Linked DNA regions of Homo sapiens. The protein of the gene in region 1 purifies or fractionates together with the protein of each later gene. This does not show direct contact. Each region holds a gene or a part of one and is shown in the gene's direction. Other genes may lie near its edges.

Region 1 (4,049 bases):
TTGAAAAAAACTCACCAAACTTTTTTTTTTTTTTTTTTGAGATGGAGTCTCGCTCTGTTGTCCAGGCTGGAGTGCAGTGGCGTGATCTCGGCTCACTGCAACGTCCACCTCCTGGGTTCACACCATTCTCCTGCCTCAACCTCTGGAGTAGCTGGGACTACAGGTGCCCACCACCACGCCCGGCTAATCTTTTTGTATTTTTTTAGTAGAGATGGGGTTTCACCGTGTTAGTCAGGATGGTCTCCATCTCCTGACCTTGTGATCCACCCGCCTCGGCCTCCCAAAGTGCTGGGATTACAGGCGTGAGCCACTGCGCCCAGCAAACTCACCAAACTTTGAAGGAATCTTACTTTCTCTGTAACTCCAAATTATTAGAGAATAATAATTATTAAGAAGTAGCCTTAACATATGAGAAATTTGAAAGGTGATTATTATGCCATGGGCAATTTCTTAACATTTACAGTTTGTGTTTACTCCGTGTAGAATTAGAATACTGGCAAAAATCACTGGGGAAACTACTTAGATGGAAAGCATATCTTATGCAGGTAATCATTATTTGACTAAATTCTATTGTTTCAAGGCTGCTGGCCACATAGGATGTTTTTACTATTTTTTTAGCCTAAGTGCTTACATAAAATGGTGATTCTTTTATAATTGTGCAAGTTGATAATATTAATTGAGTCATTCTTGTCACATCCAACTAAAACAGACTCAAGAAGCTAGGGGGAAAAAGTACTTGGGACACATAATATTGCTCCAAGAATGTAATTCTCTGTGAGCCTGGCTACTGAAACTGCTTGCTGTAACCTGAGACCAGTTTTGTCTATAGCTGCTGAGATAACTTGCTGTAACTCTAGGACTAATTTTACCTATGGCCATTGCCCACCAGTTGGAGCTTGCCAGCTCCCCAGGGCTTTACTAATACCAATGAACTTTCTCTTAAGATCACAAGTTGGCCGGGCGTGGTGACTCATACCTGTAATCCCAGCACTTTGGGAGGCCGAGGCGGGTGGATCACAAGGTCAGGAGATTGAGACCATCCTGGCTAACATGGTAAAACCCCATCTCTACTAAAAATACAAAAATTAGCCGGGCATGGTGGTGGGCGCCTGTAGTCCCACCTACTCGGGAGGCTAGAGGCTGAGGCAGGAGAATGGCGTGAACCCGGGAGGTGGAGCTTGCAGTGAGCCAAGACTGCACTACTGCACTCCAGCCTGGGTGACAGAGCGAGACTCCGTCTCAAAAAAAAAAAAAAAAAAAAAAGAAAGACCACAAGTAACATTCTTAGTTTTAAATAAAACCCTCAACCTTCTCTTTGTTTGTTGGACATACTAAAGATCACCTAGAATTGAAATTCTTTCTTCTCAAAACATTAAATTTAGTTTTGTGTCTACATTTTCATTTTGACTTTGACATGCATGGTGTCAGAAGTGGGATACAAAGCTGACTCACCTCATGGAGAATCATTGGCCTTTGGAGTTATGGCATGAGGTACCCATGTTGGGGCCCTTTGAACCCCCTACACCCCCACCACTTTCACAGGTAATCCTTTCTCCCTCCAGTAAGTATCTCTTGGACAGAACTCTCAGATATGGTTCGAGTTCTGTTTTATTTGGGATATGATTAGGGAGAGGTCTTTCCCCCTCTTGTTTGGTAGATCTGTTGGGTAGAATTATTTTCCCCCTGTTGACCTCAGCTGCGAGGTTTGGACCTTGAGGCTTGGATGAGGGAATTTTTCCCTTTCTTTGGAGAAGGCTTATCATTCTTACTGGTAAGCATGTATTTTATTTTCTGTCCTGTCTTGTATTTATTTGGCCTTTGTGTATTCAGTGCTTGCATTTACTTGGCTTTTGCATAGTTGACATTAAATCAGAGCACCCACGAAATGAGCTCTCAAAGTTCAAAGGCATGCCAGAATATTTTCTGGAACTCCAGCTAGTAACATATTCAAACATTACAGGGATCATTTAGTCTGTTTTTCTTAAAACTGAACTAAAAGATGGAGGCTATAAAATCATACACTCCAAATAAGATATGCATATTTCATTGATATCTTGAGGCTAAAAAAAAATAAAAACAAAAACAAAACACATTCAGGATACAAATATTGCCTTGTTAAAAAATACTGTCTCAAAGGTGGCTGAAACTTTCTTTTCTAGACCTTTCCCCTCCCCTTCTTACAGTATCCCCTCTTTATCCTTCTCTAAACAGCTATTCTAACATACTACTTAAATAAAAACACTTGAAAACCAGCAGATATAAAACAAAGTCATTTTGACCTTCCTACTGTTTTTTTTTTAAAGCAAAGATTAAATTCCCATGTAAAACCTTCCTCCCTATACAAAAAAGAATAGCAGCATTTTTATCTTCAATGACAAAGAATTGAGTCCAAGAAAATACTGTATAAACCTTGTTAAAAATCACTCTTGTCTTTTGGTCCTACTCACATAATTCAGCACACTTTCACAGTTAACTATTTTTTGTTCAATTTAGTGCACTGGTGAGTGACTCAAACTGCTTTATCCCAAATTTGATTTACAGCCTTTATAAGATTGCCTATTAAAAAAGCTTAAAGCTTATCCTTAGCCCATTTTGTCAGAAAAATAATTTGCATCTAATCATTTTTATAAACTGGTGAATTTACGTGTTTTACTATATCATGACTAAAATTCTAAAATAAAAGTTTTAATATCTTTATGTATATGTGTTTAAATGTGTTTATGTGTATGTACATATATTATGTTGAATGTTGTATCTACATAAAAGCTGGTGTAGTCAGCCAGAAATCCCTTAACAAATTTTATTCTGATTGGTTTAAATAAATGAGCACTCATATAAAATGTATAGTAATTAACCCCCAGTTTTTTTTAGTTGATGTGACTTAAGTAAATCTTTGATAAATTAATTGGTTTTAAAATTGTGGATAAAATAAAATTAGAAATGTCTTCAAAATTGTCAGCAGACATTTTTGTCTGGGTTTACTGGTCAGACAGTTTTATATTTGCCTCTGCTAGATGTTTTAAAGTCATAAAGCCTAAAACAAAATGATCTTTGTTTATATAGTTTTTAAATAAATATGATTATATTGTTGTTTTAATAAAAATAGCTGTAACTTTTCTGAGTTAGCAACAGGGTGGCTGTTTTTAACTTTAAGGTTCTTACTTAAACCTTAATATCAAGATAAATACTTCATGGTAACAGTCTATAAAACTGATTAATAAAAACAATGACTAGTTCTATCTCAATTTTCATAAATCTAGGAATAATTGAGAAATAAATCTTATAAATGAAATAAACATTTATAAATGAGCTTTTCATGTAATTTTAAAATCTTAAAATTATGTTAAATGATACTCATTAAATGTCTGGATCATATCCAAATTAAAAAAAAATTGCTAAATACATAGACATTTGTTCTTGGCTTCTTAGGTTTTATAAAAGGACTAAAAGTATTTCGGTCTATTAATCAAAATATAAATTTAGGAAAATACAATTGATGTATTAAAAATTATATGGTAAATTTTTATCCTAAGATAAAATAATTGGTTGTTAAAAATTTTATTTTTTATTTTTATTTTTTGAGACCGAGTTTTGCTCTTATTGCCCAGGCTAGAGTGCAATGGTGCAGTTCCAGCTCACTGCAACCTCTGCCTCTTGGGTTCAAGTAATTCTCCTGCCTCAGCCTCCCAAGTAGCTGGGATTACAGGCACCTGCCACCACACCAGGCTAATACATTTTTTTTTTTTTTTTTGAGACGGGGTCTCACTCTGTCACCCAGGCTGGAGTACAATGGCGCGATCTTGGCTCACTGCAACCTCTGCCTCCCGGGTTCCAGCGATTCTCCTACCTCAGTCTCCCTAGTAGCTGGGATTACAGGCATGCACCACCATGCCTGGCTAATTGTTGTACTTTTAGTAGAGGGGGGTTTCACCATGCTGGCCAGGCAGGTCTCGAACTCCTGACCTCAGGTGATCCACCCACCTTGGCCTCCCATCTTCCTGGAACTTTTTGAAACAGCAAGAACTCAAGGTGCAACAGTTACAGGTGGA
Region 2 (3,500 bases), on another chromosome or scaffold:
ATTAAAACATGCAATGAAGGAGTGTTTGGAAAAATGCATTGAGCAAAATATAACTTCCATTTCCTTTCCTGCCCTTGGGACTGGAAACATGGAAATAAAGAAGGAAACAGCAGCAGAGATTTTGTTTGATGAAGTTTTAACATTTGCCAAAGACCATGTAAAACACCAGTTAACTGTAAAATTTGTGATCTTTCCAACAGATTTGGAGATATATAAGGTAAGTTAATATCTTAGAAATGTCCTACTGTTCATTCATTCATTCATTCATTCAGCAACATCTGTTTAGTATCTACAATGTAAGATGCAGGGGATGCAGGGCTAGGTGCTGTACAGTGTGGTGGTGTTCTAACTTGGTGAAGTTTAATTTTTACAGATTGTCCACCTCTGACCTAGTAAAACATGTCATTATAGAAGCCATGTTTGGCAAGACACGGTGGCTCACACCTGTAATCCCAGCACTCTGGGAGGCGGAGGCAGGCGGATCACCTGAGGTCGGGAGTTCTAGACCAACCTGACCAACATGGAGAAACCCTGTCTCTACTAAAAATACAAAATTAGCTGGGCGTGGTGGCACATGCCTTTAATCCCAGCTACTAGGGAGGCTGAGGCAAGAGAATAGCTTGAACCTGGGAGGCGGAGATTGTGGTGAGCCGAGATCACGCCATTGTACTCCAGCCTGAGCAACAAGAGTGAAACTCCATCTCAAAAACAAAACAAAACAAAACAAAAAACAAAGAAGCCATGTTTACCCACTACCTAGCTTCTGTCTTTTCTTTTAATGGCACTTATTCTTCCCTCTGCTCCTTAAAGGTAAGCAACCTTCTAGTTTCAGTGTGGGGTCCTTGCCCCTCTCTCATCTCTCTCCCTTCAAGAACACAACTGTTCTTACAACTTCTGTGAAGTCCTGTCTTCTTAGCCAATCCTCTCTCATTTCCACTTGGATCTCTGACCGTCATCTCAAATCCAGTGTATTTAAGGCAAATTCTTTGTCTTCTCTCTCTCTCTCTTTTTTTTTTTAAACAGATGTGATCTTGCTCTGTTGCTCAGGCTGGAGTGCAGTGGCACAATCATAGCTCACTGCAGTCTTGAACTCCTGGGCTCAAGTGATCCTCCCACTCCAGCCTCTTGAGTAGCAGGCACTACAGGCACATGCTACCATGCCTGGCTAATTTTTAAATTTTTTGTAGAAAAGCAGTCTTACTATGTTGCCCAATCTGGTCTTGAGCTCCTGGGCTCAAGTGATCTTCCCATCTCAGCCTCCCAAAGCTCTGGGATAATAGGTGTGAGCCAATATGCCTGGCCTGTCTTCTCCTCCTCAATCAGTTTTCCCTCTAAAATCCCCATCAGTCTCAGCTTTGCCTCTCGCTGGCTATATAACCTTGGGCAAGTTAGTTTACTTATCTGTGCCTCAGTTTCCTCATCCTTAAAAGAGGGATACTGATTACCATCTTATGGAGCTGTTGTGAAGATGAAATGAGTTAATACAGGTGGGTGAGGTGGCTCACGCCTGTAATCCCAGCACTTTGGGAGGCTGAGGCAGGCGGATCATCTGAGGTCACGAGTTTGAGACCAGTGTAGCTAACATGATGAAATCCCGTTTCTACTAAAAATACAAAAAATTAGCCAGGCGTGGTGGCACACACCTGTAATCCCAGCTACTCGGGAGGCTGAGGCAGGAGAATTGCTTGAACCCAGGAGGCGGAGGTTGGAGTGAGCTGAGATCGCACCATTGCACCCGGGCTTGGGCAACAAGAGTGAAACTCCATCTCAAAAAAAAAAAAAATGAGTTAATACCTGTAAAACACTTAGAATAGTACCTAGCACAGAGTAGAAGGTTAGCTGTTACATCAACTGTAATGAGCTGTAGTTCACTGAGTGCTGAATTGTTACTAAATTCAGTGAATTGTTTATCTTTTCTTTCCAATTTCTTTAACAGCAGTGGTATGCCTGGCTAGTTTTGCCATGTCTCCAGTACTGCCCTCAAATTCAACCCATTCTTTTTTAGCTCATCTGTAGGTGACCTCGGAAGGAAATCAGCTGTGGTCTAACACATTTGGGGTCCATGTGTTGGAGGGGAGCTTGTCTTATGTGTCTGAGTGCACTTCATCTCAGCTTTTTGTTTGGGTGGACAGATCAAGCTGAGTTCCTAGCATGTGAATAAACTGTGATATTTTCAGCATAATTAGTATATATTGCAGTGCTGTTCTGCCTTTAAAGTACCGACCATCTCTGCTTTATTCTCACTTAGCTGGCATTTTCGAGAAAGACTTTAATGATGTTAGGGAAGAATAAAAAGGAAAGGAAATAAGATACAGCAACCTAAAATAGGTTTTCAAGATATAGGTTTCTGATTCTGCCAACAGCAACATCCGAGTTTTAGAGAGACTTCTCGGCATGTGTCTGGATTTTGGATATAGAGGGCCTTGCAAGGTTTGCCTTGCAGAGAGTGGCTGCAAACATTAGTTCTCTGACTGCTCATATTCCCACCTCTTGGCCTGCTCTATGTGCATGGTTGCCATTTTATCTCTGCCTATATGGAAGTGAATTTATACTTGTTCCAGCTTGCTCTTTCTTGGAGCAAGTATAAAAGTTCTTATTCCTTCTGCTGCCCAATTAAACACGGGGAGATTTGTAGCATTTGCTGATTTCTGTGGCTGCTTTCAAGCTGTTGATATGACATCACTGAAAACAGATTTAGAAGAGATGGTCACAGCAAGCTGTCTTGAGTCATTGTATGCCAGCTCCAGTATCCCACTGCGCCTCACCCACAGCTAACTGGTGAGATGGTGGTGCATGACCCAAGGAAGTAGCTCACCTTCTGATAAAATGAATAATCCTGTCCTTCAGATGAAGTTCATCAGTTTCCCATGCAGAGGATTATCTCTAAGCCCAGATAGGTGCCCTGATCACCTCCCTGAACTATTTCTTTTTTTAATTTCCTTTTTTTTGAGACAGGATGTCGCTCTGCTGCCTCGGCTGGAGTGCAGTGGTGTGATCATAACTCCCTGAAGCCTCAGCCTCCCAGGCTCAAGCAATCCTCCCATCTCAGCCTCCTGAGTAGTTAGACCTACAGGCATGCGCCACCATGCCTGGCTAATACTTTTATTTTTTGTGGAAGTGGGGTCTCACTATGTTGCCCAGGCCAATCTCAAACTCCTGGACTCAAGTAATCCTCCCACCTCAGCCTCCCAAAATTCTGGGATTACAGACGTGAGCCACCGTGCCCAGCCCCTGAACTTTATGAAGCACCATTTTCATACAAGAGGAATTAACCACATCTAGAAAAGAAGGTTCATTCTCTCCAACATACAAACAAAAATATGCATGACAGTTTAAGAAAAATGGAAAGATCAACCACGGTCTGAGCGCTCCCCCAGGGACTAATAATAAAAATAGTGCCGTAGGGGGCCGGGCTTGGTGGCTCATGCCTGTAATCCCAGCCCTTTGGGAGGCTGAGCTGGGCGGATCACCTGAGGTCAGGAATTCGAGACCAGTCTGGC
Region 3 (3,500 bases), on another chromosome or scaffold:
GGTGGATGGTGGGGTGACCCTGGAGTGTGGGTGGAACCAGGCCACGCTGGGCCTTGGATCCCGGGGTCTGTCCCAAGCCCTCTGCTTGTTCTTTTATTCAACAGACCTCCCAAGTCCCTGCTCGTGTCCCCAGCCCCGGGTTGGCTGAGTGCAGAGACTCAGACGTGAGTCAGACATGGCCCTGCTGTCAGGGCACACACAGTGATGGGTCAAGAAGAGCATACAGGTACATGGTGCAGACTGATGAGGGCTGTGATGGACCTGGGGGCTGCCAGAGCCCACAGGAAGCCCCTCTCCCAATCTGGGGTAGGCAGGGCACCTGGAGCATCAGGACGCTTTTGGCTGTAATTAACAGAAAACACAACTCTGAACCGGCCCAAAGTCAAGGGGGGTGCATTAGCCCATGTAGCTGCAAAGGTCTGGGGATAGTATGGAGATCAGGTGTGGCTTGATCAGGGGTTAGCTATTCCCTTCATTCTCTGTGGGCTGCTGGGTCTGCAGAGGGGCGGCAAGTTGGCTGCAGCCCTCCGGGTCTCATCTGCATACCCAGCTGCGCAGAGACTCTCACAGTGGTTCTGTCTTGAGAAACAGGATCTTCTGTCTCAGAAGTATCCTGGAGCCTCAGGGGCCTGAAGGGAGATGGTCAGGGAGATTGTCAGGGAGATTGCCTCGTGCTGATTAGCTCTGGCTTGGGTTTCTGAATTAACCTTTGAAAAGGGAGATATGATTACTCTTAGCCTAACTGGGCGGGCCCTGGGAGGCGGGACAGCCTCACCTCTTGCAGCTGGAGGGTGTGCAGGTGAGAGTTGCGCACCCGAATGATCACCTGGGTGCCCTTGCGCAGGGCAGCAGAGATGCTTGGTGTTCCCTAAAGGCTGTGTGAGGAGCCCTGAGTCTTGACCCACAGGAGAGGGGGTGACCCCAGCAGCCCTTTAGAGACCCCCTTGCCCTTTCAGGGTGCTGAAGGTTTCCTGCGGTTTGTGGGCAGGCCTCTGACAAGGTCCTGATGCAGGTCACAGTCAGCTTGTTTGGACTTCGCTGCCGCCACCTTCGGGGGTCTCATGTATCTGCTACCTGGACAAATGGCCTTGCGCATGCCGTCTTGCCAGCGTTGGGGACCCAGTGGTGGTTGTGATGAAGACTGGGTAGTGAGGGTCTGTATTAACGAATTCATGCATAGCTGAGACAAAAGAGTGGAAGTTACTTTTTATGGGATGCCACTGGGGGACCCTGGAATCCCAGCTCAGTAGTGACCCCCATTCAGCCATGAGCAAGATCTCCTGCCCCCATCATTCCTGGACTTTCCCAGGAGTCGCTGGCCAGTGTCTGCCTCAGGTATGACTGTGTGCAAGCTTCTTTGTCTCTGGGTCTTGGAAGCTTAGGCCTGGGTGGCATCAAACTCATTGCCTCCTTCTCCCAAGAGCCCTTTATCAGAACACCCAGTTCCAAAACGAGAGCCTGCATTGTGCAAATACCACAGCGAGCTCTTCCTCTGTATGCCCTGCACATCGGACTTGCCACTCAAATTAAGTTTGGTGCTAATTTGCCCGAGGTAAGTAGGTGTTAATTTGTAGCTACAGCATTAAGATAATTGCTGTGAGGGTCTATTTGTGTAATGTGCAAATATATTTTTACAGCAACAAACCATTTTGCTATGAATTATAAATAGAACAGTTGGGTGATTTGAATTTTCCTTTGCATAACATCCACTCTGCCAGCATGCCTGTTCGGGTCCATGTCTAATGAGGGGCTGCAGCTGGCCCAGCCCCACAGATGCTGATGGTGCCTCTGTGTCCTTGTCCCCGACCCTGGGGGGGATCCGAGAGAAAGGGCTTGTCAGGGAGGGTCGGGAGGGAGTTGAGGCATGTGCGGACTCACATGCAGGGCGAGGCAGGCTTTGGGGGATGGAGCTTCTGCTCTGAAGCCCACTGGCCAGGAGAAAGGGCCCACTTGTAATGTCTGGTTTATTTTCACTTCATTTTGATGATTACGAAGGACCTGCATGTACCAGGCCCTGTACTAGGCACCACGGATACTGTTTGAGCAAATCCAGGCATGGGCTTGGTCCTCGTGAAACTTTGATCTGCTAAGGGAGGCCCATGTTAACATTAGCAAAAGGATCACGGAAATAAGTGCCATCAGCCCTCCGTATTGGTGGCCTCTGTATTCGTGGGCTCTGCATCCGTGGCCTCTGTAACCGTGGACTCTGTATCCATGGGCTCCATATTATGGGTTCCTCATCTGTGGATTCAACCAACCGCGGATTTAGTGTATTGGGAAAAGAAAATAAATGGTTGTGTGTACTGAATTTATACAGACTTTTCTCCTTATTCCCTAAACAACACAATGTAAGAACTATTTACAGGCATTTACATTGTGTTAAGTGTTACAGGTAATCTAGAGATGATTTAAAGCATACAGAAGGATATGCATAAGTTATATGCAAATACTACACCATATTTCAGCAGGGGCTTGAGCATCTGTGGATTTTGGTATCTGCCAGGAGTCCTGGAATGAATTCCCCAAGGGACGTCTGTAAACTTGCACCTGGTTGAGAGCTATGAGTAATGGATACAGGGAGCTAAGAGTATATGGAGAGGGGCCTGCCATGCTCCTGTTTGGAAAGAGAGAATATGTTAGTCAATTTTTACGCTGCTGATAAAGACACACCCGAGACTGGGTAATTTATAAAGGAAAGAGGTTTAATTGACTTACAGTTCCATGTGGCTGGGGAGGCTTCACAATCATGGTGGAAGTGAAGGAAGAGCAAAGGAACATCTTACATGGTGGCCAGCAAAGACAGAGTGAGAACCAAGCAAAAGGGGTTTCCCCTTATAAAACCATCAGATCTCATGAGACTTATTCACTACCATGAGAACAGTGTGGGGGAACCCCCCCCAACTCATAATTCAGTTACCTCCCACCAGGTCCCTCCCATAATGTGAGAATTATGGGAGCTACAATTCAAGATGAGATTTGGGTGGGAACACAGCCAAACCATATCAGAGAATTGTCTTAACAGAGATCAGAAGGACAGACAGGAGCTGACCTGCAGGTGGGGGCTGTGGTATAATGAATCTTAGCTGAGCACAGTGGTTTGTGCCTGTGATCCCAGTGAGCCGGAAGGCTGAGATGGGAGGATCACTTGAGGCCAGGAGTTTGAGACCAGTTTGGGCAATATAGTGAGACCCAGTCTCTACAAAATACATGAAAAAGCCAGGTACAGTGGTGTGCACCTGTAGTCTCAGCTACTCGGGAGGCTGAGGTGGGAGGATCGCTTGAGCCCAGGAGTTCAAGGCTGTAGTGAGCTATGATCATACCACTGTACTCCAACCTGGGCAACAGCATGAGACCCCATCTCTAAAACAAAAAAAAATCTTTGTTAGGTCTTTGTCCCTGGTTCCTGGCAGAGCTCCTAAAACCCTTGGAAGAGCATCTTTTGTTACTCATTATGAACTCTCTCTCTCTCTTTTTTTTTTTTTTTTTTGAGATGGAGTCTC

Evidence for each region. Proteins that work in one complex are often made in the same cells at the same time.
Region 2: the proteins of RBM43 (region 1) and PARP9 purify together in Homo sapiens (affinity purification with mass spectrometry; one large-scale study listed by BioGRID and IntAct). This does not show direct contact.
Region 3: the proteins of RBM43 (region 1) and ARHGAP8 purify together in Homo sapiens (affinity purification with mass spectrometry; one large-scale study listed by BioGRID and IntAct). This does not show direct contact.

The regions. Positions count from the first base shown.
Region 1 is NC_000002.12:151,246,588-151,250,636, reverse strand, and holds the end of RBM43 (RNA-binding protein 43), read left to right. Parts: 3' UTR 1-2,697; downstream 2,698-4,049.
Region 2 is NC_000003.12:122,547,301-122,550,800, reverse strand, and holds part of PARP9 (protein mono-ADP-ribosyltransferase PARP9), read left to right. Parts: coding exon 1-217; intron 218-3,500.
Region 3 is NC_000022.11:44,759,075-44,762,574, forward strand, and holds part of ARHGAP8 (rho GTPase-activating protein 8), read left to right. Parts: intron 1-3,500.